4 linked regions of the Homo sapiens genome follow. The protein of the gene in region 1 purifies or fractionates together with the protein of each later gene. This does not show direct contact. Each region holds a gene or a part of one and is shown in the gene's direction. Other genes may lie near its edges. The genes, in order: WTAP, FMR1, PAICS and CALD1.

Region 1 (7,028 bases):
TTTTTATTTTTTATTTTCTGAGACAGAGTCTCACTCTGTTGCCCATGCTGGAGTGCAGTGGTACAATCTTGGCTCATTGTGGCCTCATACCCCAGCTTATGCGATCCTCCCACCTTTGCCCCCCAAAGTAGCTCAGACTACAGGTGTGCCACTACGCCTGGCTAATTTTTGTATTTTTTGGTAGAGATGGGGTTTTGCCATGTTACCCAGGCTGATCTTGAACTCCCGAGTTCAAGATATACTCCCGCCTCAGTCTCCCAAAGTGCAGGAGGCATGAGCCACAATGCCCAGCCAAAGCCTTAATTTTATACTGAGGTAGGAGAGGTATCTCACCTTTACAGCCTTTATTTGGTGTAGTGAATATACTGTTTCTCAATTTTTGAAGCATGTTAGCTTATGCCCTTCTTTCAGCTTTTTGTTTTGAAATAATTATAGATTCATAGGAAGTTGCAAATAAATGTACAGAGAGGTTCTGTGCAACTTTCACTGAGCCTGCTTCATTGTTAACACCTTGCGTGACTAGCAGACATCTCTAATAACTGTGAAAATCAGGGAATTGACATTGGTACAATCCACAGAGCTTATTCACATTTCACGTTATACTAGCACTGTTATTGGGGGAAGTGGGGAAGAGCTATATGCACTATTATCATGTCTAGCTTTGTGTAACCATCATTAATCAAGATACATATCTGAACTATCACCATAAAGCTTCATCGAGTTATTCTTTTATAGCCACATCTACCCCGTCCCTCTCCATGCCTGACCCCTGGCAACCACTAATTTATCTCCATTTGTATAATTGTTACTTCAGAGTGTTATATAAATGTAATCATGTAGTATGCATCTTTTTGAGACTATTTTTTTTCCTTCCACTTAGCACAGTTTCCTTAAGGCTTATACAAATTGTTTCATGTATCAGTAGTCCTGTTTCTTTTTATTGCTTAAAGTGTTCCATGGTGTGGCTGTATGATAGTTCAATCATTTGCCTGTTAAAGGACATTTGGATAGTTTTCAGTTTTTTAGCTTTTACAAGTAAAGCTGCTTGCATGTTTTCATTTCTTTGAGATACATGTTTAAGAGTGCAACTGCTGAGTTATATGGCACATTCATTTTTAGTTGTATTAATAAAAGGAACTGCCATACTTCTTCAGATACCATTTTTATATTCTCACCTGCAGTGTAGGAAACTTCAGTTTCTCTGAATCCTCACCAGCGTTTGGTGTTGCCACTAATTTTTATTTTAGCCATTCTAATCAGTGTGTGGTGATACCTGGGGTTTTAATGTGCATTTTCCTAATGATGATGCCCATTGTTAAGATACCAAATAGTTTACCTTAAAAAAAAAAAACTTTTGTAATAAAATACTTTTTCAAAAAATCATAATATGTACTGAGCCGTTTAAATCTCACACTTGGGAGATGTTTCATAGGTCTCATTATAGAACTTTGTGTCTTCAGGAAGAACACTAAATTCATATTGTAATTCTCTTTATAGGTTCGATTGAGTGAAACAGACTTCAAAGTTATGGCAAGAGATGAGTTAATTCTAAGGTAAAATGTTCTCTGTTCAAAAACAAAGTCTTTCTATAGAACATTATATTGTGACTCTACACTGTAATTGTCTTTGTGCCAGATATTGTTTTTAATGTTGTTCTATCCTCAAATAATTTAATGTACTTTTTGAGCATACTATGACCTATTTCTTATATTAACACCGAGGAAAACGTAACACTTTAAAGAACTACTAGGAAGCTATAAGTTTAACAAATATATGGCTTGTTTTGTGTAGTTTTTCCTTTCGTGTTTAACATTTGAAAAAGAAATGTAATCCTAAAAGATGCACTTATATTTATGGAAGAAATACATAATTTACTAATGAAGTGAGGTTACTTTTTCTTATTAGTGTGACCTTCACCAGCTCATATAACTTCATACTCTTCATTTTCTCATCTGTAAGTTGAAGAGGTTGGGTTAAGTTATTGTTAAAGGTGACTTCCAGTTCTGAATTTCTGCGGTTATCTTGTAAATGTCTTACAAAAGCAGATTGTCAAGTACAACGTATAATCTTTTTAGATTGTGTAAGAAATCAGGAAGTAGGATGTTCTGTGTTTTGTAATTTAAATATATTCTTTCTGTATTTTATTGCTATGGTTAGTAAGTTTCTTGATAACTTAGATAAAAATAAAATAAGTATTTTAACAGGCTGAAAGCGGAGGAGAGAAAAGATGTTTTGTGAGATAGGCTAACACAGATTTTGTTGTTTCCTAGAGTGTGACAATTTCCTACTTTCACCTTTGGACAGCTACTGTATTATGAACACACTTTTTACCTTTTTTTTTTTTTTTTTTTTTTTTTTTTTTTTTGCCATAATCTCATACATAGGACAGTTTCCATTGCATACCTTTGTCTTTCTGCACATAAAATTTAAATTTTTGTTATTCTAAAACACTTCTGTCTTATGCTGAAGTATATACTTAAGATACACTACTACTCAATGCTGGGTTTTTTTTTGTTTGTTTTAATGTGCATATAAATTATAATAGAGGTGAGGTGCTGCTCAGGCTGGTCTTGAATGCCTGGCCTGAAGTGATTCTCTCACCTTGGCCTCCCAAAGTGCTGGGATTACAGGCATGGGCCACCATGCCTGGCCATGATTTTTTTTTTCCCTGTCTCTGGCATTGTATACTTTTTTTAATGCCTTCTTACATAATTGCTCTGGTTAGTCTGTGCAGTCATTTTTTTGATTTAACTGTAGGAGGGGAAAAATCAGTAATCTTAATAAAGAATCATAGAAATGTTTTATTTTAAGATACCTTTAAGGTTTCTAAATCATATGCAGTGTATTTCCTTGAGGTCAGTTTAACATCTTTCCTTAGGGAATTCATGTAAGACTTTTAGGCGAGTTTTTTCTCTTTGATTCCCTTGGAGATTTTAAACCAGCTGCTACTTATTTAACTAGTCTGTGCCTTCTATCCTTGTGATATACATGTTCTTGCTTCAGTTTTTATATTTTTCTGTACTTCTAAAATAAATCGTTCTTTTATAGCCTCCACTGAAGATCTTTCTCTATACATCCCCAAATATTTGGTAAACTACGTGTCTTAGGTTGTAAGTGCCGTAAAAATAAAGCATGGCCTTGGCTGAACATCAGTGTTTACATAGAAAGTGGATTAGTTTGGTATTAGGAAGGTTTTTTTTTTTTCTTTTTTCTTTCTTTTTTTTTTTTTTAAGACAGAGTCTCGCTCTGTCACCAGGCTGGAATGCAGTTGCGCGATCTCGGCTCACTGCAACCGCCGCCTCCCGGTCAAGCGGTTCTCCTGCCTCAGCCTCCCAAGTAGCTGGGACTACGGGCATGCGCCACCATGCCCTGCTAATTTTTTTGTATTTTCAGTAGAGACGGGATTTCACTGTGTTGGCCAGGATGGTCTTGATTTCTTGACCTCATGATCTGCCCGCCTCGGCCTCCCAAAGTGCTGGGATTACAGGCACGAGCCTTTTTGTTCATTATGTTGTAATATTAATAACTCATGACAAGCCTGTTTTTAAGATTATAAAATGGTTTTCTAAAGCCAAATTTTAATTAATTGTACCTGAAGAGCAGCTTGAAAACATGGCTCTTAAGTATGCAGGATAGCAGACATTCAGGGCAGGGTGCTTTCCATTAGGAACTGCCTAATAAGACTAGGAAAAATCTTTATTGCTAAGAGGACCTAGCAGTGTATATATTCAGGGTAGAGAAGTATAATGAAGAACAACGGTCCCCTTGTATTCTGATAGCATATGGCATTTATGCAGGTTTCTGACAGTTAGATGTGATTGTTAAATTACAGTCTTGAAAAATGTTATATTCTCCCCCTGTGTTTACAGGCAGAAATTGATACTACCTTGAGAAGAGTCACATGGTATTTTCCCAAAAGAGCCAAGATAAAGAACCTTCAATTCTACATAATGAGGCACATTTCTAATATGCCTTTTGTTCTAAGTGGACAACATATGAAAGCAGCAGTGGGATTTTTTTTTCAGCTTCTATAATCCAGGATTATCCTGAACATCAGTGATATCAAAGTGAATCTGGGGTTTGATCTCACCCAGGGCATGCTTGGCATGTTCTCAGCAGAAAAAACCTTCTCTATATATCTCTTTTTACCTGTTTCCTGTAAAATGGGAAGGAATAATGAGGGACTATTTTATGATCAGTTAAACTAGATTTAGGCTGGGTGTGGTGACTCAGGCCTGTAATTTCAGCAGTTTGGGAGGCCAGGGTGTGAGGATCATTTGAGCTCGGGAGTTCAAGACCAGCCTGGGCAACGTAGTGAGACCCCATCTCTACAAAAAAATGAGCCATGTGCCTTTGGTCCCAGCTATACAGGAAGCTGAGGCAGGGACATCGCTTGAGCCCAGACCCTGTTTGCGCCACGCTGCACTCCAGCCTGGGGGACAGAGCGAGACTCTGTCTAAAAAAAACTAGATTTAAAATGAAAAATCCAGAAGAATGCTCAGTATTACTAAAATCTGTGAGTTTATAGATATCTTCTAGTTTATTTAATAAACTATTTTATCGTAACAACTAATGTATGGATTTTTTTTTATTAGATGGAAACAATATGAAGCATATGTACAAGCTTTGGAGGGCAAGTACACAGATCTTAACTGTAAGTTTGAGTTTTAGCTTCCTAAAGACTGAATAATCTCCTTTTGATTGTTAAAATCAAAAGGATAGTTGTTTTTATTAAAGCAAATGTAATTTTTCTCGTGTTTTATTATAAGAACTGTACATAGGCACTGTGTTGGGTGCAAGAAAATATAAAGATGAATGAGACACAGTCTCAGTCATTGGAGAAGACAGAGGTGTAATAGTCATGTAATGGCATGACTTAGCAAAATTATATGCAAGGTTCTGAATATAGATGCAGTAACTCAGAACTACTTGAAACTTTTCTTACTTGTCCCTAACCCCTTCTGCATAGGAATTTGACTTGAAGCATGAGTTACTAGTCTAGAAGAGAAATAAACAGAAGCAACCAGTAACAGATTTATGACAGCTTAAATCAATATATATAACTTAATAATATATACAGATTTTTTTAAATCTGCTGAAAATAACGTTTATCATTTTAAGCCATTTTAGTCTCACTTTTTACTGTTTGAATCACATACTATTTGTTGAGTATAAAAACCAATATATATTGTTTTGTAACTTCAGAAGGGTTAATACCCTGAAATTCTAATTTTGCGTGACTGTGTTACCCATAGAAGTCATGAACATTGTGAAAGTTTAAGGCTAGGCACAGTGGCTCACACCTATAATCCCAGCACTTTGGGAGGCCAAGGTGGGAAGATCACTTGAGCCCAGGAGTTTGAGACCAGCATAGGCAACATAGGGAGACCTTGTCTCTACAAAAAAAAAAAGAGTCAGGAGGATCACTAGAGCCCGGGAGGTCAAGGCTGCTGCAGTGAGCCCTGATTGTGCCACTGGACTCCTGCCTGGGTAACAGAATAAGATCCTGCCTCAAGTTTAAAATACAAATTGTCCAGCAGTTATTACTATTTTATTTATTTATTTGTTTGTTTGAGACAGGGTCTCGCACTGTTGCCCAGGCTGGAGTGCAGTGGCACAATCTGGGCTTAGTGCAACCTCTGCCTCCCAGGTTCAAGTCATTGACCTGCCTCAGCCTCCCAAGTAGCTGGGATTACAGACATGCATCACCACGACTGGCTAATTTTGTATTTTTAGTAGAGACGGTGTTTCACCGTGTTGGTTAGGCTGGTCTGAAACTCCTGACCTCAGGTGATCTACCTGCCTCAGCCTCCCAAAGTGCTGGGATTACAGGCGTGAGCCTCTGTGCCCAGACAGCATTTTTATATTAAATAGGTTAAAACATACTAATCAGGATTTTGTGAATACTGTATAACACAGATGTTTTCTGTCTTCTGTTGGGAGTAGATGAAACTATAAAAACATAATTTAGTTAGTAGTCATGGAGCACTATGACACCATTGTCTCCTAAAGGAGCTCTCGTGACCAGGAAGAAATTCGCCTGTTATAAAAGTAGTTAGGATGGAAACTAAAGACTTGATTAATTTTTTGACCCTAGTTCTTATTGTTCTTGACAGAGGTATTTAGAACTTGATCTTAAAATTGTATTTATAATTTTTTTTTGAATCATCAGCTAATGATGTAACTGGCCTAAGAGAGTCTGAAGAAAAACTAAAGCAACAACAGCAGGAGTCTGCACGCAGGGAAAACATCCTTGTAATGCGACTAGCAACCAAGGAACAAGAGATGCAAGAGTGTACTGTAAGTATTTCAAGTTATATAAATGTCTTTAGTTGAGGAATTGGTTTTTAGTCCACATTATTACATGTTAATTTTAAACATTTAATGCTAAATATAAGAGCTTATCTTTTATAGGTACGTATGCTTTGAGCTTTAAGAATACTAGATGAAAAATTTTGATAATGTCTCATTTAGACTGTTTTTTGTGGCCAAGAAGGCAAAGTTTTAAGTTTTTTTTGAAATTTTCATGCCTTATAAGTATTAGTTCATCAATTCCAGACATTTTTCAGATATCTTGGTGTCTGAGGATGTAATCAATAAAAGAACATTTGCTCTTTATTGCTTTACTTTCACTGATTAGGAAAGCCATCTGAGGACTTTATCTCTGTTCTCTTGTCCCCTCTGTGTATAGAACTGTTTTTCCTAGTGTCAGCAACCTCTTTAGTGTCTCCTTTTTAATTGTTAGAACTTTGATGTGTACTGTGTAGTATTTACTATGTCTACGTAGATCTGAAATCTAGTGACATAATTGATCATCCAGCTCTGGTAGTTTAGGCTCAATCTTACGGTGTAATTATACAAAATAATTAGAGGCAGCTGTATCCTTGTTTCTGATTTTAAAATCTGAATGTTTCTTCAATTCTTTGTGTACTCTCCCTTCATTTGGTACATATAGAAGTCTTCTTATGTGTTATTAAAGTCTTCTAAGATAGTATTCTGGTCATTGGAGACACCAAAAATCTATGGGC
Region 2 (7,028 bases), on another chromosome or scaffold:
GTGTTTTTGTTATATCTCTAATTCTTGACATCAATAATCTGTTATCTGTAGTAATTTTCTTTTTAAGGAGATCATTCAATTTCCTGATAATTCTGTGTAACAGTGTTTACTGTAAATTTAGAACTGAAATTGAAATATTCCAGTATATTTTTATCTGATGAAAAGGAGAAAGGTTTTATTAAGTAAAATGTCAAATTATTTTTACTGTTATCTTGTATATTTTAAATAGGAAGTAGACCAGTTGCGTTTGGAGAGATTACAAATTGATGAGCAGTTGCGACAGATTGGAGCTAGTTCTAGACCACCACCAAATCGTACAGATAAGGAAAAAAGCTATGTGACTGATGATGGTCAAGGAATGGGTCGAGGTAGTAGACCTTACAGAAATAGGGGGCACGGCAGACGCGGTCCTGGATATACTTCAGGTACAAACTAAGCATTTTACTCAGTAACTTTATCTGTTCCTAGACTTATAGCTGCTAATCTCTAATATTCATTAGAACCCCATTATAACAATTTGCCGCTACATGGTTTCCAATTCACAGTGGGTTAAATTGTGTTACAGGAGACATAGAGTAAAAACCTGATGATAAACACGTAGAGTTCACAGGGCCGGTGCAAGTTCTGTTCATGCTCTGATTGGGGGTAAATCTGCAAAGCCCTTGTGTGTTGATGATTTTCTTAAGGCCTCTCCTGATTTTATAACTGTATAGTCAAAACTTTTTTCATTTGTGTACTGTGGCTCATTTTTATTTTGTCAGGTATGTGCTGGTCATACTTGCTGGATGGACTGTGTAAATCAGGGGTCTGCCTCTTGTGGCTCATAAGGTGATTTTGAGTGACATGGCCAAAGTCAGCCCTAGGCACAGTCAAGAAGTAGGCGAAGTTTCTCTTTGCCTTCCCAGCTTTTCTGTCCGTGCTTCTTTCTTCTCTCCCAGTACCTTTCAGTGAACCTGATCCCCACCTGCCAGTGCCTACTGTCTTTCTTGCTCAACAGTGTATCTCCTTTGTAACTTGCTAATGATGGTATAAGGTATAATCCATTTCACGCATATTTGCATTTCAAAAAGGAACTCTTTAAGATGGAAAAGCCTTCAAGATCCACAGGAATGAAGCTATAATGGTGAAGCTATAATTGGTCATTAGCTCCAACAGAGGAAGAGAGAGGTAGTAGAGCTGATATTCTGGAGTTGGGGAGAGTTACCTACTCCTAAGGCCAACCTTGAACCTAACCCCTAACCCCTCTCCCAACAGTCTGTTCTTTTTACTCATGAATTTCTGCCTCACCGTGGAGCTCTTTTTCTCCGCTCCTGTCCTCTAAGTCGTTAACCCCTTCAGGCATAATGAATTTATTATAGTAATTCTTTATTAATGATCAATTATTGTAATGGGAGTGGGAGGGCAGGTTGTGGACCAAACATCAGGCAAGCATGTATCTGCCTTCAGCTAGATCCAATCCATGACCCACAAGAGACCCTTCCCTGAAGCAGTTGCCATGGTGGCCTCCTTTGCCACCCTCTCAGAAATGACCAAAATATATACATTCCCCTCTGTCCTGGGCCAAATCTTGCTAAAAGGAGCTCTCTTTTTAGAGGTTTTGTTTATCAGGGTATCACACTTAACTGTCGTGGATAATCTTTTCCTCCAGAGAGTATAGATGTTTAAAGGAACACAGCTATTTAATGATATGGCACATCAAGGTTTGAACTTAGGTGGCTAATAACATACCTTTTTAAAAATGAGAATGAAACATGTTTATAACCAAAATTAACCTCAAATATTGCAAAGCCCTTCATTTTGAGTTTAAAATTTTGTTTTATGAAATGGAAAGTGATAATACTCTTTGTGGGCTTATAAATTGGGAAGAGTTTTGGATTACCCCTGAAACGTCTCTGGAAGCTTCTGTTAACCCTCTTTTTTTTTTTTTTAAAGTCAGACAATGGTATATAACTTTTAACTCTCGATAGGAACTAATTCTGAAGCATCAAATGCTTCTGAAACAGAATCTGACCACAGAGACGAACTCAGTGATTGGTCATTAGCTCCAACAGAGGAAGAGAGGGAGAGCTTCCTGCGCAGAGGAGACGGACGGCGGCGTGGAGGGGGAGGAAGAGGACAAGGAGGAAGAGGACGTGGAGGAGGCTTCAAAGGTATGGAGATCTTCATTAAGAAATCAAAGTGAATTGTAACAGCTGTCTTGAAGTTCCATGAGAAATCCTATTGATGCAATGAACTGTTACCAAGATCCCATCTCTCCCGTTTTGTGCTGATACCATAGGAAAGGATCAGCCTTCCACTTGTGTAGAAAGAAAGAATATTAGGCAGCCTTCCTTATGGTTCATACAGATATATGAATAAATGCTGATAACTAATTCAGCATCTTGGTGGGTCTAAACAGCATCCCTTCATTAACTCACATTGACCTGTAGATGCAGAATTATAATAACTGTGAAATATTTTCTGTTACTTAGCAGCAGGCTAGATTATTAGCCATTGTGTAACTGGAATCACTGGGGTATTGATTACATTTCAGATTCTGTGGTTGGTTTAAATAGAGGGTGTGGGAATAAAGAACTTCCAGTAAGCATTTCAGAATCAGTAACTGTTGAACCTTTTGAAAATATTCTCATAGGAAACGACGATCACTCCCGAACAGATAATCGTCCACGTAATCCAAGAGAGGCTAAAGGAAGAACAACAGATGGATCCCTTCAGGTAAAACCTGTCTGCCTCTTTTCATCTTAATTGTTTGAATATGGTAGTTTGAGATTTATGAGTTTATTTTACTTTATTAAAAACATGTTCAAAGATTACAAATCCAGTTTATGTGAAATATTTTACCTTCAACATTACAATTGTAGTCAATCTTAGTTCTTTGTGACAAGTATACAAATAAGAGGATTTCTCTAGAGAATATGCAGTCTGAGTATTTGTGAAGACCTTGACAGCCACACTATGATTTTATTATTTATTATTTATTTTTATTTTTTTGAGACGGGAGTTTCGCTTTTGTTGCCCAGGCTGGAGTGCAATGGCGCAATCTCGGCTCAGAGCAACCTCTGCCTCCCGGGTTCAAGTGATTCTCCTGCCTCAGCCTCCTGAGTAGCTGGAATTACAGGCATCCACTACCATGCCCAGCTAATTTTTGTATTTTTAGTAGAGACGGGGTTTCACCATGTTGGTCAGGCTGGTCTTGAACTCCCAACCTCAGGTGATCTGCCCACCTTGGCCTCCCAGTGTGCTGGGATTACAGGCGTGAGCACTGTGCCCAGCCACACTATGATTTTAATACCACATTGGTAGACCTGCAATCCCCCAGAGAAGGAACATCCTGGGATGTACTTAGAGACCTCAGTAAACCTTATGTGTCTTTGCTCCCCCAAATTAACAGGGATAGGGTATTCTCTTTGAATAGAAAATAAGGAAAAGAAGGTGTCTGTCTTACAACTAATAATCATGATAGACAGAGCTGATGATATTCAGCTAGTCTCCATGCTTGGTCAGTCATCTGCTTATTTACAGCCAGGACCTAGTCCGAGGATCTCTTCTCAATTGGCTGTCACCAGTGCTAAACCAATTGTTAAATAATTTTAAAATTATCTCCTGAGCACATCCAGGCACCTTTGCTAAGTGCTTTGTGTATGTTTTATCTCATTTAATCTTACAGCAACCCACTGAGGTAGTTTTATTATTCCACTTTATAGGTGAGTGCACTGTAGCTTCAGTCCTTTGCCCACAGTCACATAGCTAGCATATGTCCAAATGATAGTCAAACCTTAGTGTCTGATTCTCTGAATCTATGTTGTCGTCTACTTTTTCTGTAACTTTTAATTATTAAGTAGTTAGGGTTCCTTCCTGACTATGGATTCATTTGGGACCATCACCCAAGATTAGTGAGAGATACTTTTTAAGACAAAGTTTATGATGGAATATTTCTTGGAATTCATAGCAGCTCAAAGTAAGTGTTAACTATTGGTGGGTTCTTAAGGACCAGCATGTCCAAGGGATAGATAGATTGGTAAATTACTGTATGTACCTGTCTTTTACAAAGCTATAAGATATTTAAGTACCCGTTTTGTAATTTTCCACTTAAACTGATATGTTTGATGAACTTGGCAGTCTAACTGCATTGGTTAAAAGGATGCACATTTATATTTCTAAATGAAATGGAATACTGAATTTAAAAGGTGATGTTTTCTCTATTAAGTATGAAAATAGATACAAATCTGGCCAGGCGCGGTGCTCACGCCTGTAGTCCCAGCGCTTTGGGAGGCCAAGGTGGTCAGATCACCTGAGGTCAGGAGTTCGAGACCAGCCTGGCTAACATGGTGAAACCCCATTTCTACTAAAAATACAAAAAATTAGCCAGACGTGTTGGCGGGCACCTGTAATCTCAGCTACTCGGGAGGCTGAGGCAGGAGAATCGCTTGAACCCAGGTGGCAGAGGTTGCAGTGAGCCAAGATCTTGCCATTGCACTCCAGCCTGAGCAACAAGAGCAAAACACCATCTCAAAAAAAAAAAAAAAGGGCCAGGCACGGTGGCGCACGCCTGTAATCCCAGCACTTTGGGAGGCCAAGGCGGGTGGATCACAAGGTCAGGAGATCGAGACCATCCTGGCTAACATGGTGAAACCCCATCTCTACTAAAAATACAAAAAATTAGCCGGGCATGGTGGCGGGCACCTATAGTCCCAGCTACTCAGGAGGCTGAGGCAGGAGGATGGCGTGAACCTGGGAGGCGGAGCTTGCAGTGAGCCAAGATCGCGCCACTGCACTCCAGCCTGGGCGACAGAGCGAGACTGTCTGGGAAAAAAAAAAAAAAAGATACAAATCAAAGTACTGAATCCTTGGTAACGAGACATTTAAAACACATGCACATACCCACTACTTAAACATACTTTGAAATTACAACCATTTGGGGATGTTTTTAGCATTTGTGCTTGAAGTAGATCAATATTTGTAGTTGTTTTAGTTCCATTTGTCACTGTTAACTTTCATTTGTACCTCTGGAATTAGCAGTGCTGTATTCAGCATTGGCACTTAAAATATTTTATAGCTCTTAGAACACTATTTTTTAAATTACATTGATCTTTATACTCTCCTAGGATTCCAGTCCTTCCACAAATTATTATATGCAGTTTTCTTTATACTGTTCCATTCTTCAGACAGAGTTCAGGTTGTAGGATCATCTGAATTTTCTTAGTGAAATACAAGCCAGTAGAAACCAAAGCTCGTGTTTTTCTACTGTATGACTATGGGAGCTCTCAGTATAGAGAAACTTGATCATACCTGTGATAGATATAAAGATGTAAATTAAAGTCTAGTTAGTGAGTTATTTGAGGGTAAAGCCAGAATAGGAAAACATTTTGTTTCTCTTTTCCTGGGCTTCACAATCTTTGGAGAATAACTAATTTTATTTTAACTCTAGTGTTAGAGGCATGTATGTCTTCTGGTAATCAGTAATAGTAATTCATTTTACCTGTTTGTTTCTCACTGTTTTATTCTACTTAGAAGAAGACATGATAGGATTGTGAGTTTTTCTCTAACTTTGGATGCAGTGAGATGACCAGTGTGTTCCAGTTAAAGAAGAAGAGTGTTTTAAAATCATAAACCAAATAAAGAATCCTACCTTACATTAATTTCTTGCACTTCTTCTGTTCTCATCTCCATTTCTCTTTTTAACATGTGGAATTTACACTTCAGGTTTAAATTTCTTGTCAGGCCAATTACAGATTACAGTAGGATATGGTCTGTGTATATAACAACTATAACTTGTTTTAGATCAGAGTTGACTGCAATAATGAAAGGAGTGTCCACACTAAAACATTACAGAATACCTCCAGTGAAGGTAGTCGGCTGCGCACGGGTAAAGATCGTAACCAGAAGAAAGAGAAGCCAGACAGCGTGGATGGTCAGCAACCACTCGTGAATGGAGTACCCTAAACTGCATAATTCTGAAGTTATATTTCCTATACCATTTCCGTAATTCTTATTCCATATTAGAAAACTTTGTTAGGCCAAAGACAAATAGTAGGCAAGATGGCACAGGGCATGAAATGAACACAAATTATGCTAAGAATTTTTTATTTTTTGGTATTGGCCATAAGCAACAATTTTCAGATTTGCACAAAAAGATACCTTAAAATTTGAAACATTGCTTTTAAAACTACTTAGCACTTCAGGGCAGATTTTAGTTTTATTTTCTAAAGTACTGAGCAGTGATATTCTTTGTTAATTTGGACCATTTTCCTGCATTGGGTGATCATTCACCAGTACATTCTCAGTTTTTCTTAATATATAGCATTTATGGTAATCATATTAGACTTCTGTTTTCAATCTCGTATAGAAGTCTTCATGAAATGCTATGTCATTTCATGTCCTGTGTCAGTTTATGTTTTGGTCCACTTTTCCAGTATTTTAGTGGACCCTGAAATGTGTGTGATGTGACATTTGTCATTTTCATTAGCAAAAAAAGTTGTATGATCTGTGCCTTTTTTATATCTTGGCAGGTAGGAATATTATATTTGGATGCAGAGTTCAGGGAAGATAAGTTGGAAACACTAAATGTTAAAGATGTAGCAAACCCTGTCAAACATTAGTACTTTATAGAAGAATGCATGCTTTCCATATTTTTTTCCTTACATAAACATCAGGTTAGGCAGTATAAAGAATAGGACTTGTTTTTGTTTTTGTTTTGTTGCACTGAAGTTTGATAAATAGTGTTATTGAGAGAGATGTGTAATTTTTCTGTATAGACAGGAGAAGAAAGAACTATCTTCATCTGAGAGAGGCTAAAATGTTTTCAGCTAGGAACAAATCTTCCTGGTCGAAAGTTAGTAGGATATGCCTGCTCTTTGGCCTGATGACCAATTTTAACTTAGAGCTTTTTTTTTTTAATTTTGTCTGCCCCAAGTTTTGTGAAATTTTTCATATTTTAATTTCAAGCTTATTTTGGAGAGATAGGAAGGTCATTTCCATGTATGCATAATAATCCTGCAAAGTACAGGTACTTTGTCTAAGAAACATTG
Region 3 (7,028 bases), on another chromosome or scaffold:
CGGAGTCTCCCTCTCTTGCCCAGGCTGGAGTGCAGTGGCGCCATCTCAGCTCACTGCAACCTCCGCCTTTCAGGTTCAAGCGATTTTCCTGCCTCAGCCTCCCAAGTAGCAAGGATTACAGGCGTGCACCAACACATCCGGCTAATTTTTGTAATTTTAGTAGAGACAGGATTTTACCATGTTGGTCAGCCTGGTCTTGAACTCCTAACCTCAAGTGATCCGCCCGCCTCGGCCTCCCAAAGTGCTGGGATTACAGGCATGAGCCACTGTTCCCGGCCCACTGTTCTTTACCCTTCCCTCTCTTTTATCCTCCATGATGAATTCTCAAAGCTACTATCTTAAATATCTTGCATCTTTGCCCACTACTCTTTCCTTAGACCAAGACATTTCTTTTTCTTTTCCTTTTTTTTTATTGAGACAGGGTCTCACTCTATCACCCAGGCTTGAGTGAAATAGTGCAAATCTTGGCCCACTGCGGCCTCGACCTCCCCAAGTAGCTGAGACTACAGGCATGCACCACCATGCTGGGCTAATTTTTGTTTTTTTGGTAGAGATGGGATTTTGCCCTGTTGCCCAGGCTGGTCTTGAACTCCTGAGCTAAAGCAATCTGCCCTCCTTGTCTTCCTAAAGTGCTGAGATTACAGATGTGAGCCACTGCACCTGGCCAGACGTTTCTTGTTCAAGTTACTGCAACAGCATCCTAACTGGTCTTCCAAGCTCTAGTTTTTGTTCACTCACCCCTTCCTCCCTTCATTGTCCATACAGAAGCCGTAATGATCTTTCCAAATAGCGTTTTGCTTTAGCACTTAAAAGCCTTATAGCTCTTCTTGGGTTAAAGTCTAAACTCAATCAGCATGGCTTGTGAAACAAGAAGGATGTGTAGCAAAATGGAAGGGAAGTTTTCCAGGCCTAGGAAAGAAGAGATTGTCAGAAGCTAGGGGAAGATTGTATAAGAATTAAAGATGTTGGAGTTCTAGATAGGAAATAGACAAATAAGAGTTTGGAGCAGTAAGCCAGGGCTGTATCTTAAAGGGACTTTTAAACCATGTTAATGAGTCTAGACATTACATTAGGGAGGGTAGAGATTCATCCTCTAAATTAGGTGCCCTACAGTGGCAACTGTTAACTAAATTACAACTACTTTGTTTAATGGTTACCTCCACTAGCTGGTGATGTGGCCCCTGTCCAACTCTTAAGTCTTGTCTCCTGCCATTCTTTAGCTGCAGCCCCCACCCCTTCCCCTGCCCAACAGCAATGTACATATACCCAGAGCTCCAGCTCCAACCAGACTGAAGTTCTGCAATCCACTTTGACCACCTTGTATTTATTCATCAACACTACCTACCCCTTTCTCTCCTTTGGCTAAATTTCGATGATTCTTCAGATTTCAACCTGTCACTTTCTTGTAGACTTCTTTTTCTAATGTCTAGACTAGTCCCATAGTCTGTATTTATTGCATTCTATTATTATGATGTCTTATTTAATATCAGCTCCCCTCAGACTCAGGTCTCTTGAGAGCAGGAATTATTATTTACTGGTACATCCCTTGGCACATGGATACACCGGGAAAATGTTGATACTGAGAGTGTTGTGGAAGTATGAGGGTTGATTTCTCTCTTTCGAAATTTTAAGTTCCTAAACATCTGTTATCTTTACTCTTTCTCTAAATCATCCTTTTGTGTACTTCTTAGGTTTTGTGACCAGCATCAAAATTGGATTCCTTTGTGCTCACTTCCTCACAATTTCTTACAACTGTTAGTGAAGAGAAAGGATTAATGGGGGCAGGGACAGGATTAAGAAATAGAGAGGGATGCTTCCAAATGTGCTAACTTCAATGGGATGGCATGCCTCCTCTTGAATATTAACTTGAAATCAAGAAACTCATCTGGCTGAATGTTCCCATTTTGCCTACAAAAAAGCAAATATCAGCAAAAATCGCATATTTTTTCCTGCAAGATAGTTTAGATACTATACTGTGAGTGTGTCTGTGAAAATACTAGTATAGTTACATTACTTTAAGTGGGTCTTAATTAATTTTAATTCTAGTTCAGTTCTGCTATGAGAGGCAGGTTAATAGTGGAAAGAGCACAGGATTTGATGTCAGAGGAGTTAGGATTTTATCTACCTCTTATATTTCCTAACTGCATGACCCTCAACCCTTTTGATTTCTGCTTTACTAATTTCTACAATTATTTATGTAATTAAAATTCTTCACAAGATCATGTGAATCAAATGTGATGGTATGAGAAATACATTGTAGAGTATATGGTTTTATACAGATGATTTAATTTTTATTAATATTACTTAATCACTGTATATTTACAGATTAATTGTTCTAGGTGATTTAGTCTTCAGCATTCAGGAAGTTTCTGAATTTTGGTCTATTTCCATTTTATTTCCACAGTACTGAACATTGGTAAAAAATTATATGAGGGTAAAACAAAAGAAGTCTACGAATTGTTAGACAGTCCAGGAAAAGTCCTCCTGCAGTCCAAGGACCAGATTACAGCAGGAAATGCAGCTAGAAAAAACCACCTGGAAGGAAAAGCTGCAATCTCAAATAAAATCACCAGTTGTATTTTTCAGTTATTACAGGAAGCAGGTAAGCAGCTCCCTCAAAGTCTCTTCTCTCACCTTCTCTGGTAAGCATGTCGATGTCTTTCATGTGAAGTTGGCATTAATATGAACAACTTGTTTGCAGATGTCTCAAAAGCTAAGTGAATTTAAATCAAACCAAGAACCCTTAAACTTCACTATAACACCTTATTTGGTTTGGGATTATTAGTATCATTGAATTAAAAGGAATCTTAACAAGTTTGCTGTAATCTTTATCTGGCACATGCACTCTCTGTGCAGCTTACCTCTCCAAGGCCATCTTCACTTTAAGGAATTTAACTATGAAGGAAACCCATTTTAATGTTAAGCAGTTCTAACATGAAGAACTGAAATTTACTCCCTGTAATTCTATACAAATGGTCTTTGTTCTGCCTCTGGGAGATAATACAGAATTTCAAATTCCTCTTCCACTTGAAAGCCCTGAAAAGTAGTTGAAGACAGCAACCAAACCTTCTCCTCCTGCCATTCCCCAAGTGAGATATTTGAACTAAAACCCCAGAGCGCCCTCCTGTTCAAAAACTGAATGAAGGCTCTATTTTCAATAGAGAAATAGATTCAAAAGACCAAATGAAGATCAGAACATTGTGTGGTGGGTATTTGAAGCAAAGGGAAGGAAATTAGGATAAAGGGGTTTTCTGCAGGGATTCAGTCAGTTGCTGGTTGGTCTGTAGTATATGAAATTTCAGCTAGGAAAAGATTTGAACTCTTGCCACACAGTGTAAATAGCCTCATTGCTTTGGATCATTCAACCTACGAAACCTTACCTATGAAATAAAAGCTTTTTCTTTATCATTCTTGCCAATTCTAATTTTATAATTTAATAACTTTCCTTACTTTTAATTCCAATATTCCCAGTTGCCCTTTCATTTCTTAGAGTTTCTGGTAGCACTAATCTTTCTTAAATTCAACAGGGGATTTAATGCTTTTGTTTTCAGTTAAGTTAGATGTACGTGCCTTCCACAAAATAACAAGGTAATGTAATTTAAATACATTGTCAGTGCATTCTTGGCGTAGTTTTGTCTCTTCCAAAGTATCCTATTTCACAATTTTGATTAATGTGAAAAAGATTTAATTGCAAACCTGGATTGTCATCTACATCATAAATTCCTCTATGCTGTGAAAGTGAGTGTATTGCTGTAAATTTAAAGGATCTTCCAGAGTTCCTAAGTCACAGAATCTAAGATTTTTATTTCAAGGTTTCTTGATTGGTAGCTTCCCAATGACTGAGGTAATTTCTAAAGAGAGCATCAAATTAATTTTGGGTTCCTTTTGCAATACCGATAAGTGTTCCATCTATTTATTTATTTTATTTTTTTATTTATTTTAAGTCAGAATCTTGCTTTGTTGCCCAGGCTGGAGTGCAGTGGCACAATCTCGGATTACTGCAACCTCCATCTCCTGGGTTCAAGCGATTCTCATGCCTCAGCCTCCCCAGTAGCTGGGATTACAGTTATAGGTGCACGCCACCATACCCGGCTAATTTTTGTATTTTTAGTAGAGACGAGGTTTTGCCATATTGGCCAGGCTGGTTTCGAACTGCTGGCCTTAAGTGATCCACCCGCATTGGCCTCCCAAAGTGCTGGGATTACAGGCGTAAGCCACCACACCCGGCCTGTTCCATCGATTTTTTTTTTTCTTCCCAAGTTTTAACTCTCCCCATTCACTTAAACATTTTTTAAAGTGCTTAACTCTTTAAAATGTTAGCAGTCAGAAGATTACTTTCTGTGTACCCTTGGTAGTTTCACATAGCTACAGGATTATATTAAGTAATGGAAGATAAAGCCTGACTTTTTATTTGCTTATTTAGTGTATTTTCTGAGTGTATTTACACTCATCCCATTATCCATTTCCAGAACTTTATAACAAGTAAATTAGAGTGACTCAGTTGTGTTATGTTTGTCCAGGACTTTCTGCTTTAATTCTGAAGAGTCCTGTGATCAGGGGAACAGGGAAGGATGGTTACCTAAATGAAATACTCCAATAATTATCTTTAAACTACTTTATTTGGCACTTAACATAGCTAAAACTTAACTGGTTCACAGGAAATGTTGAAAGATATTTTCCAGATTTTATGTCTAGTACTATGAAACTAAGTAAACCTGAATTTTTTAAAATTTCTAAACAGACTAGTTTTAGGGTACATATTAGGAATTCCATTAAACCTTATGTAATTTTTACTTGCTTAGTCAAATAAATGCCTTATCTAGTTGGCCATCAGTGGTCTATTTAAAACTGTTTTCTTTACAACCTGGGTTGTGTTCCAAATTAAGGTAGAAAGTAGAGAGGAAAGAGCATTGGAATGAGAATCAGAAAATCAGGATTCTACTTTTCTCATTGTCACTCAGGAACAAACTGTAAAGGACTATATAAATAAGAAGTAATCTTTTTCCGTGGAAATAGTATAACTGTGTTATAACTGTGTTATACAATTTGTGGATTTGGTTTTATTACTTAAAAATTAAAATCTGGCCTTCTTAGTGATGATGAAATCCCAATTTCCTCACAGAAACTCACTATAATTACATTAAGTGTAATACTAGTATATGAAGAACGGTACTACAGTTGCTAAACCACAGATGGGCATCTGGACCAATCTAAAAGAGGGATGGCCACGGGGACATATGTATTAGCTAGAATTACTATTCTAGCTAATATATGTTCATTGTAATCCAGAGTGTGTCAGTGACATAAACATTTTTTAGTAACCTGAATGAGAGTTTTGAGCTTTGTAGACAACTAAGATAAACAATGGGAATTTTTTTCTCACCATGCACAGTCATGGAATTTGCTTTCATATTTAGCAGTATTAGAAGCCATCATTATGTCATCTAAACTGAGTCTGTTTTAGAAACTTTTAGGGATTTTTTGTGCAGAGATGATTACTGTAGCTTCATTATGTGCTTTTGGTTCTCCTTGGGATTGGCGGGGGGATCTCTCTAAGACGAAGTTATCTTTATATTAAAAACAATAAAATTGGATACTACTGTGTCCAGCTTGGTAGACAAATGAGCAAATATGTGACTAATGATTAACAGATCTAAGAGAGAAGAGCTCTTGAAACCAAGGATGTAGTTACCACCCCAAGTTGAGAATTGATTGAAGTCACCTGTCTATCCATGAGCCTGATCATTCATTAAAAGTTAAACAACAGATTGCATCTAATTTTTTTTTAAAGGTTAAAATGACAGTTTTACTTCCCCTCTTTTCATTTTTTCCTTAGGGTTTCTGTTCATGCAACATACCACAATTCTTTCTTTTTTTCATTTGAGTCTTACGAGTCAGATTCAAAGAGAGGGCAGAGGAAATAGTGTAGGGTTTGGACAGTGCGTTTCAAGTCCAGGCTCCATTACCAAATGGCTACATGACCTAGTGTGTGAAATTACTTCTTTGAGCCTCTGTTTTTTTCACTGTAAAATGTATAAATAATAATACCTACTTCAAGGCCAGGCGCGGTGGCTCACACCTGTAATCCCAGCACCTTGGGAGACTAAGGTGGGCAGATCACGAGATCAGGAGTTCCTGACCAACATGATGAAACCCTGTCTCTACTAAAAATACAAAAATTAGCCAGGCGTGGTGGTGCACACCTGTAATCCCAGCTACTCAGGAGGCTGAGGCAGGAGAATCTCTTGAACCCAGGCGGCGGAGGTTGCAGTGAGCCAAGATCACGCCACTGCACTCCAGCCTGTGTGACACTTTGTCTCAAAAAAAAACCAAAAAAACAAAAAAACCTACCTCAAAATTTTATGCACAGTTAAATGAGACAACATATATAAGACACTTAGCACAGTGGAGGATTTCCATAAATAGAAGCTCCCTTCATGTACAGATACACATATAACAGCAAAGATCCCCAATTCTTTCCTGATAATAAAAGTTAGACTAGAGGATTAGGTTGGGATTGGAAATAGTAATGCAGGCTGAAAATAAGCATTATCTCAAACCCATGTAGGTTTCCAGGAGATATTTTAAATCATGTTAATGCTGTAGCATTACTTTGTACTGTGATGTAATAACACTTCCAGGAGAGGCAATACAGCAAAGTGGTTAAGTGGGCGGCTCCTAGAGACAGGGTAGGTTGGAAATCCTGCTATACCTAATACTAGCTGACATTACTACTGTGTCTTAGTGTCCTTACCTGTTTTGTTGATCTTAATAGTATCTTATCAAATGTTATGAGGATTAAACAAAAAAGATGTATTTAAAATGGTTGGAACAATATCTGCCATAAAATAGGCTCCTGATATTTTTTAAAAGAAAATTGTGATAAATACATAAAATTTACCAGTTTGACCATTTTTAAGTGTCCAATTCAGTGGCATTATGTGCATTCACAATGTTGTACATTCATCCCATTATCCATTTCCAGAACTTTTTCATCATCCCAAACAAACTGTGTAGCATTAAACAAT
Region 4 (7,028 bases), on another chromosome or scaffold:
ATACGTGTGTGTGTGTGTGTGTGTGTGTGTATATATATATATATATATATATACACCACATTTTCTTTACCCACTGCTTGGTTGATGGGCATTTAAGCTGCTTCCATATTTTTGCAATTGCAAATTGTGCTTCTATAAACATGCGTGTACCAGTATATTTTGCATATAATGACTTCTTTTCCCCTGGGTAGATACCCAGTAGTGGGACTGCTGGATCAAATGTTAGTTCTACTTTTAGTTCTTTAAGGAATCTATACTGTTTTCTGGTAGGTTATATCTTTAAATAAGGAAAAGTATTTACATTTATTCTGTAGGGTGTTGCTATCTGTTTTGAACTGAAGATATGTTAGTTTAGTAGAGTCCTCCATGGCTACCATTAATAGGTAACACGTGAATTTTTAAAGTGGGCATGAATTGCAGATGTCTTCTTTTTTCTAATATACAGCCTGAATCAATAGTCTCTGATCATTATAATATTCAACAAGATACAGAATTCCGCTTAATTTAATGTGATTATTCAAACACACTTAATGAGTTTGCTATTACGTATTTTCTCACTCGGGCCCTGGTTGAAATCAGGGAACTTGAGAATGCCTAATAGGTTCAACTTCTTCAAAGAGGGCTTTTGCAGCAGAAATAAGGTCACATGGTTCATTATGCTAATGGTTAGTATATGTCATTTATATTGTCATTTATGTGCCCCAAGGTCTAAAAAAGATGAGGATATTTGAGGAGGAAAATGGAGAAAATAATTTTAATTTAAAACCATGGACTGATTATAATGGTTACACTATATAAGATCTCACATGTGGTTTTGGTTTTAGTTTGTTTTGTTTAATTCAGTCTATTTAGAAAATTCTAAAGGGAATGGGTCCTGGCCTCCTTAACCCAAGTTTGAGAGGCTGTATTAGAAGGTTTCAGAAAGCAGTCTTGAAAATGTTGGCCGGTAGCACAATATTGTTTACCCTTTCCCTCAATAAGTAGCTTCTAATTGGGGAGTAGGTATAGCAAAGGGGAAATAGGTATAATTTCTAGGGTTCACTAATTGACTTTGACTCCCAATTTGACCTTTCACTAACTGTATTTCTTCAGTTAAATGGAAATAAAAATTATACCTTTCTCCAAAAAATGCTGCTAAACTTAAACTATGTAACAATACATGTAAAATGCAGTGTCTTACACATAGTAAGCACTCAATAAATTTTCACTGTTACCAGATTCTTAACACGGGAGGGCAACGTAGTCATTCACTGCCTTTTCCATTTTCAAGCTGAGAGAGAAATAATAGAAAGAGTTTTAAAAATGGCATTTTGATGCCTTTCCTGAATCTTGTTATTAATGAGTGGTCAACAGGAGCTTTAAAAATTACTGGTGATCTGTAGTTTTCTTGCTTTTAAAATCTTGCTTTTCCTTGTGCTTCTCTTCGGATATTTGGCTGTTATTCATTATTTCATGCTATTAATTGAAATCAAATTCTTTTTTTTTTTAGAAAATCATATTGAGGTCTGAGAATGTGTGATTTATCTCTGACATATTAGTTAGCCACAAGAAGAATAAGTCTTCTTGGGGCTAAACAACTCTAACTGGCATTTGATATCTACTGATAATTGTGGTCATGATTTATAAATAGGCAAAGAAATGTTCAATACAGTTTGTTGGTTTCTTAGCATAAGAGTACTTTAATCTGGCTAGCACTTTGGAATTTTGGTGCCTTTTAAAAATTATTAGAATTCAATTGATCCAAATGGCCCCTCTATAGACTTCCCCTTAAATTATAAATTTTTTGCATTTGTAGGGACATTTAATCCTTATATGTCTAATTTCATGGAGGCAATATCCTGAAGCAAAAGTAAAGGCCAAGAAAGTTTTAAAGCTAGTTTTTACTCTGCCATTTTCATTGTTAAATATGAAATGTGTTTTTTCCAAAATTAAGTGAATTTGAACGTTGAAAGGGCCAAGTTTGGTCTGAACTATGAAATTTGATGGAGTTTCTAAACATTGCAAGACAAATTCTTCCAACTCTGGTCACAGTTCTGGTATCACATGACTGGTTGTTTCCTGCAAATAGAAACCAACACCCTGGCTTGGACAGTGTCCAGCATCCTGCAGTAGTGAGGGAGGTGATGGACAACAGTTTAACTTTTGGAGATTTTCTTTCCTTTTTAAAATAAATGTCAAATTTAACTGCCCTTTTTCCACTGTAGAAAAGATGGACAAGAAACCCTTTATTCATGGAAATCTTGACAAAGAAGGTAGATTGTGTATACATTAGTTAGGGTAACGCTGGCTGCTATAACGATTAGTGCCCCCAAATTTTAAGTTTAGTGCAGTAACACTTACCATTATGCATATTTCTGTCTAGTTGGTAGAACCAGCCACCTGTCTTCTTTTCTCTTGTGACTCTCAATCCCTAGGGCTTGGTGCTCCCTGATCTACCAACAGACAGAGATAGAGAAGACAGGGAGTGCACCTCTGTTTGTTCATTGCCTTGGTTGGACACTTCTGTTTACATTTCATTGGCAGTTATTGGTCACATGGCCCGCCTAGGTGCAAAGAAGGGAGAGGGTGCAAATTTAATCCTTGAGTGGTGATCACTCCCCCCAACTATGGAAGGAGGAGCAGGAATTGTAAGGGACACTTAGATGTCTCTTCCATTGGGGTCACTGGCGTGAGTGTGGAATCTCAACACTGTAATGTACATTTTCTTCCTCTCAAAGTACCTTGGGAGCCTCCAATCCAGATCAGGAATTCTAGATGACTTGATGACATGGGAGAATACTACATGACATGGAAGGAATTCACTTATTATTTCAGTTTGATCCTTAAGTTTGAATTCCCCAAGAAGCAAGTCCAGAAACAACGATTTGACTGCAAGTCGTTTATTTGTAAGGTGATGCTAGGAAACACTGGTGGAGGTGTGGGAAGGTAAGACAGAAAAGGGAAGGCCACCAAATAAACGTTGCATGACCAAGCACATCACCACTGTGGGTATCTGGAGCTTCACTCCACTGGGAAACTCTGAGATCCAGTGTGGAATACACACCTCGGAGTTATCCCACTCAAAAAGTGAGGGGTGCTGAGGTATCTAAACACTCAGGCTATCAATTTTTGTTTGAAAACTGCTCCCAGGGGACATTAATACCGAAAGCACTTCTGGCATGTTGAGTAGACTCCAGTCCCCAGAGAAAGGCTTGCAAATGCTGTCAGCTGAAAGCCAGGCAGGCGTGTACTAAAATGGTAACGTACTGGGGATATGGGCAAGCTTGGCACTACTGGCATCTGCTGTAGTCCTGGGTAGCACAGGCTGTATGAATGCTGCTGACTGATGAATGAGCAAGCTGTCTTTGGTGTTGTTCTTTCTGTTGTACAGTGTGCCTGACGAGGAGGCCAAGACAACCACCACAAACACTCAAGTGGAAGGGGATGATGAGGCCGCATTCCTGGAGCGCCTGGCTCGGCGTGAGGAAAGACGCCAAAAACGCCTTCAGGAGGCTCTGGAGCGGCAGAAGGAGTTCGACCCAACAATAACAGATGCAAGTCTGTCGCTCCCAAGCAGAAGAATGCAAAATGACACAGCAGAAAATGAAACTACCGAGAAGGAAGAAAAAAGTGAAAGTCGCCAAGAAAGATACGAGATAGAGGAAACAGAAACAGTCACCAAGTCCTACCAGAAGAATGATTGGAGGGATGCTGAAGAAAACAAGAAAGAAGACAAGGAAAAGGAGGAGGAGGAAGAGGAGAAGCCAAAGCGAGGGAGCATTGGAGAAAATCAGGTAGAGGTGATGGTGGAAGAGAAAACAACTGAAAGCCAGGAGGAAACAGTGGTAATGTCATTAAAAAATGGGCAGATCAGTTCAGAAGAGCCTAAACAAGAGGAGGAGAGGGAACAAGGTTCAGATGAGATTTCCCATCATGAAAAGATGGAAGAGGAAGACAAGGAAAGAGCTGAGGCAGAGAGGGCAAGGTTGGAAGCAGAAGAAAGAGAAAGAATTAAAGCCGAGCAAGACAAAAAGATAGCAGATGAACGAGCAAGAATTGAAGCAGAAGAAAAAGCAGCTGCCCAAGAAAGAGAAAGGAGAGAGGCAGAAGAGAGGGAAAGGATGAGGGAGGAAGAGAAAAGGGCAGCAGAGGAGAGGCAGAGGATAAAGGAGGAAGAGAAAAGGGCAGCAGAGGAGAGGCAGAGGATAAAGGAGGAAGAGAAAAGGGCAGCAGAGGAGAGGCAGAGGATAAAAGAGGAAGAGAAAAGGGCAGCAGAGGAGAGGCAAAGGGCCAGGGCAGAGGAGGAAGAGAAGGCTAAGGTAGAAGAGCAGAAACGTAACAAGCAGCTAGAAGAGAAAAAACATGCCATGCAAGAGACAAAGATAAAAGGGGAAAAGGTAGAACAGAAAATAGAAGGGAAATGGGTAAATGAAAAGAAAGCACAAGAAGATAAACTTCAGACAGCTGTCCTAAAGAAACAGGTACAGTAAACATTTTGCACCAAATGTGTGATGCCTGTGACTTGTGAGAAATGTAATGCACATCTGATTTGGGACTGAGGCCACATGCATATAGCTCACATGCTTGATCATTTGGCAAGCTGTTCATTTTTTCAGGCCATAGCGATACACAAGCATGCAGCAATTGATTGATGGCTGAATATTCAATCAACCAAATTTACTGGGACAGCCAGTAAATTTGGCTGTCCAGAAGACAGAGAGAAATTAATTGCTCTGTGCTTGATTGTTATGAATACCCAAAAAAAGAATTAATCCAAAGATGATAAATGTGGTGGTGGTGTGTTGGCTTCTGATTCTGTGCTTGCATCTAAACTCGTTCTTTTAATTATCTTTCCTCTATCCATAGGTCTGCATGAGGCAAGAGGCCCATAACTCCTTACCTCACTCATGGGTTTGACGTTGAATTAAAAAAATGATAAAAGCTGGGGTGGGAAAGAGACATGAAGAATAATGGTCAGACATTTCATCTTAAGAAGGCAAAAACAGGCTGGGTACAGTGGCTCACACCTGTAATCCCAGCACTTTGGGAGGCTGAGGTGGGTGGATCACAAGGTCAGGAGATCGAGACCATCCTGGCCAACATGGTGAAACCCCATCTCTACTAAAAATACAAAATTAGCTGGGTGTACCGGCACATGTCTGTAATCCCAGCTACTCAGGAGGCTGAGGCAGGAGAATCACTTGAACCTGGGAGGCAGAGGTTGCAATGAGCTGAGATTGTGCCACTGCACTCCACTGGGCAACAGGGAGAGACTCCATCTCAACAACAAAAACAACAACAACAACAAAAAGGCAAAAACAAACCCCTGGAAATTAACTGGTAATAAAGAGGGGGAAAGGAACTGGTTGGAAACTTTCCTTAAAAAAAAAAGTCAAAACCCTGATTTGCCAACATGTAGACCTCAGCTTAATGTAGACTTGCAGAAAGCCATTAATTTAGGGTAGTATTGATTTATATTTGACTGGTAATTAAGAGCATACATGCTGCTTCTTTATTATCTGGGTGACACAAATTCATGTGGCCTGAGGAAGGGTGGAAATAGTAGGGGGGAAATGTTTGTAAGCTTTGAGAAAGATTTTTTTTCTGTCTGCAAGACTGCATTGAAAGCACTGTACCTAATCACCACCACACCACCACCACCACTCCTAAAAAAAGAAAAAAAGAGATGCTTTCACATTCACCTTTCCAGAGCAAATTCTCTGTCACTAAGCCTGCATTGCACTGAAGGTATCTTTAACTCCTGCTTCTGTACAAGAGGCTCATGAACACAGCTAAAATTGAGACCATGAGCAAAGTGCACCAAACCACACACGAGGTTTGTAAACACACGAGGAGTGCCACATCATGCTAGATTTCAGTGAGCGCAATGGCAGGCACACGAGAAGATGTTGGGGTGGGAAGAAAATATCCCACCTTGCTGTTTAGAACCACTGTGCTGTGAGCGCTGAGACGGCAGAAGAGAAGCCATCCCACGCAGCACTTGCAAGGCGATCCGAGCACCCTGTCACTCTTGTAAACTAGAAAGGGCTTCTTTTACTTGTGTGACCTTACCATTCTTGAAAATAAAAAGGGAGAAGAGAAGGGAACTAAAGTGCAAGCTAAAAGAGAAAAGCTCCAAGAAGACAAGCCTACCTTCAAAAAAGAAGAGGTAAATATGATTGAAAAGTAATGATCGTAAAGCAACAGAAAAAGCAGTCAGTGTTCCAAGATATCTCAGGTCTGATGATCTCAAAATTGTAACCTCATATCCAGTGTATTTCAAGCCATGACTCACAGTCCACTGAATAGTGAGATCAGCTTAGAGTGTCTCAAAATTAATTAAATGTATCAGTCAGCATTTTTTAAAAAATGAAATGGATAGAAGCCATCAGAGGGCATTGTAGGTAGTAAGTATTGCATTGTCAGGTAAATTGTCTTTTTTTCTGTGGGACGTCATCAAAAAGGCTTGAAAAACACTGCTGGAATCAATTTATCCTGTTTTCTATTCTTCTGAATGCTAATTTTTTTTCCTTGAGCCATTCTACTTTCATTTCAATCATGAAATATTTCCAACTGGCCTTGATTAATGCTTTAACTTTTCAAAGGAAAAACACCCACACACATCTCAGTAGAAAATATGGTGAACTGAAGATGATATTTGGTTTTCAAAAGAAAAGTTTGGCCAAATGTTCTGCATTGCATTTCTGAGGCACACACAGGAGCGGGTGCCAGGGTATTTGACTGTAGGTAAGTGAACAAGGAGCTATACAGATAGAATGGCACGGGGTTTGACAGTAATCAGAACACCACATCAGAACACTTGATTGCACTTCAACTCTCATGCTGTGTTTGCCCCAAATAATCTTAAAAATTGTGACTATATCGAATAAGTTCACAATACTTATTAGGATGTGGTGAAACTGAATTATTTGAAGTAGGAAGACCCGAAGTTCTTCGCCTATGAGACTGGTGAAGTGATTTGTAGCCAACATGCTCCAACCCATCTATTAAGAAAACTATGGCATCTATTAAGAAAATTCAAAATCTTA

What was found.
Region 2: the proteins of WTAP (region 1) and FMR1 purify together in Homo sapiens (affinity purification with mass spectrometry; 2 studies listed by BioGRID). This does not show direct contact.
Region 3: the proteins of WTAP (region 1) and PAICS purify together in Homo sapiens (affinity purification with mass spectrometry; 2 studies listed by BioGRID and IntAct, with this or other methods). This does not show direct contact.
Region 4: the proteins of WTAP (region 1) and CALD1 purify together in Homo sapiens (affinity purification with mass spectrometry; 2 studies listed by BioGRID and IntAct, with this or other methods). This does not show direct contact.

Annotation. Positions count from the first base shown.
Region 1 is NC_000006.12:159,737,493-159,744,520, forward strand, and holds part of WTAP (pre-mRNA-splicing regulator WTAP), read left to right. Parts: intron 1-1,497; coding exon 1,498-1,553; intron 1,554-2,366; exon of another isoform or gene 2,367-3,950; coding exon of another isoform or gene 3,951-3,955; intron 3,956-4,595; coding exon 4,596-4,654; intron 4,655-6,172; coding exon 6,173-6,300; intron 6,301-7,028. UniProt on the Homo sapiens protein: Associated component of the WMM complex, a complex that mediates N6-methyladenosine (m6A) methylation of RNAs, a modification that plays a role in the efficiency of mRNA splicing and RNA processing.
Region 2 is NC_000023.11:147,942,902-147,949,929, forward strand, and holds part of FMR1 (fragile X messenger ribonucleoprotein 1), read left to right. Parts: intron 1-229; coding exon 230-425; intron 426-1,967; coding exon 1,968-2,150; intron 2,151-2,632; coding exon 2,633-2,715; intron 2,716-5,781; coding exon 5,782-5,943; 3' UTR 5,944-7,028.
Region 3 is NC_000004.12:56,439,259-56,446,286, forward strand, and holds part of PAICS (bifunctional phosphoribosylaminoimidazole carboxylase/phosphoribosylaminoimidazole succinocarboxamide synthetase), read left to right. Parts: intron 1-2,404; coding exon 2,405-2,602; intron 2,603-7,028. UniProt on the Homo sapiens protein: Bifunctional phosphoribosylaminoimidazole carboxylase and phosphoribosylaminoimidazole succinocarboxamide synthetase catalyzing two reactions of the de novo purine biosynthetic pathway.
Region 4 is NC_000007.14:134,929,618-134,936,645, forward strand, and holds part of CALD1 (caldesmon), read left to right. Parts: intron 1-3,370; coding exon 3,371-4,460; intron 4,461-6,070; coding exon 6,071-6,148; intron 6,149-7,028. UniProt on the Homo sapiens protein: Actin- and myosin-binding protein implicated in the regulation of actomyosin interactions in smooth muscle and nonmuscle cells (could act as a bridge between myosin and actin filaments).